2 separate regions of the Homo sapiens genome follow, and region 1 is linked to region 2. The links come from fine-mapping of genetic effects on gene expression. A gene starts in region 2. The other region holds a variant in brackets. All regions are shown on one strand. Distances are from middle to middle.

Region 1 (2,905 bases), 47 kb before region 2:
CCGCTCAGAGGTGATGAGCACTGGGATCAACAGCCCAGTTTCTTCCTATCTTTTGGCTCCGCCTAAGCTGTTAGTTTTTCATGTTCACACTTGTCATCTCAAAGTCACAAGATAGCAATTAGGCATAAACTCTGCTACCAACCTTCCAAAGCAGAAAGAACAGGCATGGTCCAAAAGTCTTTTCTTTCTTCTTTTTCTTCTTTCTTTTTTTTTTTTTTTTTTAATAGAGATGGGGTTTCACCACATTGGCCAGGCTAGCCTCGAACTCCTGACTTCAAGTGATCCACCTGCCTTGGCCTCCCAAAGTGCTGGGATTAAAGGTGTGAGCCACCTGTAATCCAGCCCAAAAGCCTTTTCTTTCTGAGGCTCTGTCTTTTTTCTAGGAATTGAGGGTCGCACACTGACTTCCCTTAGGTCTCTTTGTCCAAAACTGGGGTTGGAAACACTCAAAAAGGGGAATGGGATTGCCAGGGCTGGCATAGACACATGATGACTCATTTCTGGAGTTGAGGGAAGGATCTTGCCCTTACAACAAGCCGGGGAAAGGGGTGGAGGGGCGGGTAACGGTCACCCCTCTGAGTGCCAACCTTGACCATCTATCTTGCTTGCCCATCAGTTCTTCAGTGCATCTGCACCTCCAATGTCCGTGCCCTTCTTGCAGACACCCCAGGTGGAGGCCTTTCCTCTTTTCTCTCTCCCAGCAATACTGGACTTTTCCACAGGAGTGGGTAGCACTCAATAAATGTTTCTTAAATAAATGAAGACAAAAAAATGTTTTAAAAAATGATTTTATGGAGGGTGTGGGGAGTATAGAATTTGGAAGAAACATATTTCATAGAATTATTAGACAAATAGAGCCCAGAGATCAGGAATTCATTGCCAGGAGCCCATGACTGGGTGTCAGCGGGTTCCATGAAACCCTGAGATTGCATGACACATTTTGCATGAATGTGTATATAAATTTTGGGTAGGGTGTGTCCTTGGTTTATAGCACATGTAAGATTCTGCAACCTCTAAAAGACTCAGAAAGCCCACCCCAAATGGCCAAGGGCAACACCCTCAATTACCGGTGGGCAAAGTAGTAGCCAGCATCCTCCAAGGAATGACAAGCTAGCAGGACTGAGCTTCTGACTCCCAGGACCTCTCCTCCTAAAGCCACAGACTCCATTGTTTCTATTTTTAAAAGGCCAGTCCAAAAGGTGTTATTATTCTCTGTCTCCCAGCACAGCTTGGAGCAGAGTGGCCAGACTAGGGAAGGAGTCTCTCGTGATGACTCACCACCATCCTCCCCTGAGTAATGGCCTTCAGGCTCTATCACTCACTTGTGCTGA[C/T]GCACTAGACTGGAAAAAGCTGACCCTGAGTCAGTGGTTATATGGACACATAAAACCCTGGGAGGCGGGACCAAAGAGAAGGAGCTGAGCTGGAGGTAAAGCCAGTGCCCACCACCCAGACCCACACCTCCCCAACCCCAAGGGAGAAAGGTAATTTACTTAGGCAAGAGCCAGGTGAGCTACTGGATCAGTGTTAAAACTCCAAGCAGCCCCTGCATAGTGGATAGCTTGTAGGTGAAGATGGAGAATGGGAAGAAGGCCCACCTCTCCCTCAATAGGCAGCTCCTTCCCACTTTTGGGATGGAGAATAGCTGCGGTTGAGTTTGGCTTGGGAGGCTCAGTGAGTTAGTTAGGACCCCACCCCACATAATTCAGAGTGTGTGAGGCTGGGTGCAGTGGCTTACGCCTGTAATCCCAGTACTTTGGGAGGCCAAGGTGGGAGGATCGCTTGAGGCCAGGAGTTTGAGACCAGCCTGGGAAACACAGGGAGACCCCCTCCTCTGCCCCATCTCTACAAAAAAAAATTTTTTTTTTTTAATTAGCCGGACTTGGTGGCCTGTGCCCATTATCCCAGCTACTTGGGAGGCTGAAGGGGGAGGGATTGCTTGAGCCTGGAAGGCTGAGGCTGCTGTGAGCTGTGTGGTTGGACCACTGCACTCTAGCCCAGGCAACAAAGCAAGACCCTGTCTCAAAAAAAAAAAATAATAATAATAATTAATGAAATTTAAAAAATACAAAAACAAACAAACAAACAAAAAACAACCCACACATTGTTGTGTGAGAGCAGGCCCGGGACAGTTTTCCAGCTCCCAAGGTGTGCACCCTGGTCGGTAAGCCCTGGATTTGTTATGTGATCTTGGGAAACTCATTTGGCCTCCCTGGTCCTCCGTTGGTTTCCTTAATAGAAAGTTAAGGGGTTGCACTAGGTCAGTGGTTCTACATATTCCTCCCTAACAACCTCTGACTCCACAAAGGTAACCCTAGGCAAGCCATGGAGGGGAAGGGTCCCAGTGAGGGGCCTTAGAGACTAGGAGGAGAGGTGCCTTGGGGGACAAACGAGAGGGCCCCTTGGAAAAGGAAGGACACTGGCCTCTGGACATTTCATGCTGATGGGATTCTGCAGCATGGCTGCCCTTTAGAAGTGAAGAGCTTTGGCCAGGCTCACACCTGTAGTCCCAGCACTTTGGGAGGCTGAGGCAGGAGGATTGCTTGAGCCTAGGAGTTTGAGACCAGCCTGGGCAACATAGTGAGACCCCATCGATATTTTTTTAAAAAGAAATGTGGAGCTTTGTAAAATCAGAATTGCTTTCCCCAGACCTACTGATTCAGAGTCTTGCAGGGATAGAGACTGGAACTTGGACTTTCAGAAAGCTCTCCAGGACATTCTAAAGCAGCAGAGATTGTGCCTGTGAATAGCCACTGCACTCTAGCCTGGACAACATAGTGAGACCCCATCTCTGTAGAAGAGGGAGAAGGAGAAATAAAGTAGCAGGGGCTGGAGATCTAAGATCTGGGCCCACTCAAGGTCAAGGTGCTGCTGACCACCTCTTTCCCAGTTGCCCCCTGGCCACAGT
Region 2 (2,891 bases):
CCCTGGGTCTCCAGCACCCAGCACATGACCCAGCACAGAGCAGATGCTTCAAAAACGTTGAATGAAAAGCGACCAAATAAATAAATAAATAAATAAATAAATAAATAAATAAATAAATGAATGATCTATCCTTCTGGGTCCACCACAAACCAAATCCTCCAGGTAATCCTCCATCTTGCCCTACCCTGGATAGATGTCAGCTGGCTCTGCAATGGAAATTCTGGAAGACTTTTACGAAAAATACATAGAAGAGTAGCTTAGGAGAGGCAGCTCAGGTTGGAAGGGATGTGTGTGAGGTAGGGTGTGTGTGTGTATGTGTGTGTGTGTGTGTGTAGCACTATGAAGCTCCCCATTAGAATAAAAGCACAGGATTTTACTTAAATCTTATTTGGGGGATTGGGTGGGTGACGACCGACTCCAGGGCACACCTGGGTGTATCTTCCCATTTTGCCTAGGGATGGGAGAGCATAGAAGAGATTTTTCTCCAAGCCACTTCAAATATGTATATTTTTAATTTCTATTTTGAGATTGTAGATCCAAATGCAGTTCTAAGAAATAATACATAGACATGCCATGTACCCTTCACCCAGTTTCCCCCGATGTTGACACGATGGCAACCAGGACATTGACATTGATAAAATCCACCCACCTTACTCAGATTTCACCAGTTTTATATGCGCTCATTTGTACGTGTGTGCGCGAGCGTGGGGTGTACACTTTATATAATATTTCTGAAAGTGGCTTTTCCCTTGCAATGGAGACTGGGAAGGGGTCCAGCCTGATCCATCCCTGCCACGGAGTTGACTCCGGCAGACAGCAGTCTATGCTTGTATTCGTCTCTCGCACACAGTAGGTGGCCAACGACCGTCCACATAAACCCTGGAATTTGTCATGTCAGGGCGCGTGCAGGAGGGGAGCGCCACATTGTAAGGAAGAAAACCGAGACTGAAGTGCCCAGTATTTTGGAAGCAAAAATCAAACAAACAAAAAACTTGACGATTTCCCCCCGAATTGTGAATTAGCTAGCCGGCTAATTACTCCAAAGCGATCCTGGTGTCGGCACTCGCTGCGACCGCCGAAGAGCGCTGTTTCTGAGCCCCGCTCCCGGCTCTGCCGGCGGGGTAGGGGACGCGGGGGCTCCTCCCACCCCTACCGCCGCGTTCACCCCTTTCTTCCCTGGGGCTGGACTGTTTCACCCCGTCTCCAGGCAACGGCCAGGCGCACCGGGCGGGACGTCATTTCCTGAGGAGCCCGTGGGGAGGGGGCGGGCAGGAGGAGGGACGAGGGGGCGGGGCCCGGGCCGGGCTGGCAACGAGACGGCGTCGGAACTCGCTGGAAGACTCGGCCCGGGTGGCTCAACAGTTCGCAAAGTCCGGGCTTGCGGCCGGGCGGCGCAGAGGCGCGGAGGCTCCCCGGGCGGCTGCATCCCGGGGCTGCCCCGGACATGCCCCGCACCCCTTGTCGGACGCCCGCGCCGCTTCACCGGCTGCCACTCCCCGGAGTGCTCTGGGACTAGAGCGCCCTCCGCCCCAACTTCTGACTTTGGGGTCCCCCAGCCCTAGAGGAACGGGCGCCCGGCTGGGGGAGCCCCGGGCATGGTGTGACGGGGCAGTCAGGTCAGCTTTGCGGCGCCCCCAAACTCCAGCCACCCGTCGTCTCCGTGCCCTCCAGAATGTAGCTGCTGACCCCGCGCCCCCCGGACTCCAGCAGCAGTCTCCGCCACCTCCGGGCTCCAGCAGCCAACTCTTGTGTCTCTCAGGAACCCGCCGACGTCTCCGCGTCCCCCGGATTCCAGGTTCGCGACCCCCGCCGTCTTCGCGCCTCCGGGACTCTAGCAGCGGTCTCCGCGACCCCCTAGGATCCAGCCACTGTACCCGTGCTCCCCAAACCCAGGCTCCAGCCGTCGTCTCCGCGCTCCCGGGGATCCAGCTGTCGCGCCAGTACCCGCGAGGACAGCGGCACCGCCCACACCCCGCGCGCTCAGAGCCCGGCCGGGCCTCGGCGTGGAGATGAACGCGCCGCTGGACGGCCTGTCGGTGAGCTCGTCCTCCACCGGCTCGCTGGGCTCGGCGGCCGGGGCGGGCGGCGGCGGGGGCGCGGGGCTGCGGTTACTGTCTGCCAACGTGCGCCAGCTGCACCAAGCGCTGACCGCGCTGCTGAGCGAGGCGGAGCGGGAGCAGTTCACCCACTGCCTGAACGCTTACCACGCGCGCCGCAACGTCTTCGACCTGGTGCGCACCCTGCGCGTGCTGCTGGACAGTCCGGTCAAGCGGCGCCTGCTGCCCATGCTTCGTCTGGTCATCCCGCGCTCCGACCAGCTGCTCTTCGACCAATACACGGCCGAGGGCCTCTACCTGCCCGCCACCACCCCCTACAGGCAGCCCGCCTGGGGCGGCCCCGACAGCGCGGGGCCAGGGGAGGTGCGCCTGGTGAGTTTGCGGCGTGCCAAGGCCCACGAGGGCTTGGGCTTCAGCATCCGTGGGGGCTCGGAGCACGGCGTGGGCATCTACGTGTCTCTGGTGGAACCAGGCTCTCTAGCTGAGAAGGAAGGACTGCGGGTCGGGGACCAGATTCTGCGCGTCAACGACAAATCCCTGGCCCGGGTGACCCACGCGGAGGCCGTCAAGGTAAGGCTGTGGTTTGGAGAGAGTCTGGGGCAGAGTATGGACAGAGTGGCACAGCTTTTTCAGTAACTCCATGCTGTGTGTCCTTAGATGAATCACTTGGCCTTTCTGGGCTTTTTTTTTTTTTTTAATACTTTAAAACAGGAATGTATAGCTTACAGAGCAAATAGCTCTCAGGCACTGGGAACGTAGTTCTGCACAGACATGGCCCTTGCCTTTGTGAGGCTTAAAAGCTAGTGCAGGTGATAGTAACAAATACTTGAGCAA

The links. PIP is the estimated chance that this variant, and not a neighbour inherited with it, causes the effect.
Region 1: its variant is fine-mapped to the expression of WHRN in fibroblasts (GTEx, PIP above 0.99).

The regions. Positions count from the first base shown.
Region 1 is chr9:114,550,526-114,553,430 of GRCh38, reverse strand. No RefSeq gene overlaps it. Among named protein-coding and RNA genes, the nearest start is that of ATP6V1G1, 36 kb to the left of the region's middle. The variant C/T (reference allele first, on the strand shown) is at 1,332.
Region 2 is chr9:114,503,920-114,506,810 of GRCh38, reverse strand. WHRN (whirlin) reads left to right here and starts at 1,338. Exons shown (of 12, transcript NM_015404.4): 1 at 1,338-2,627. The coding sequence starts at 2,010. RefSeq lists a silencer at 1,244-1,543 and enhancers at 1,068-1,958, 1,959-2,849.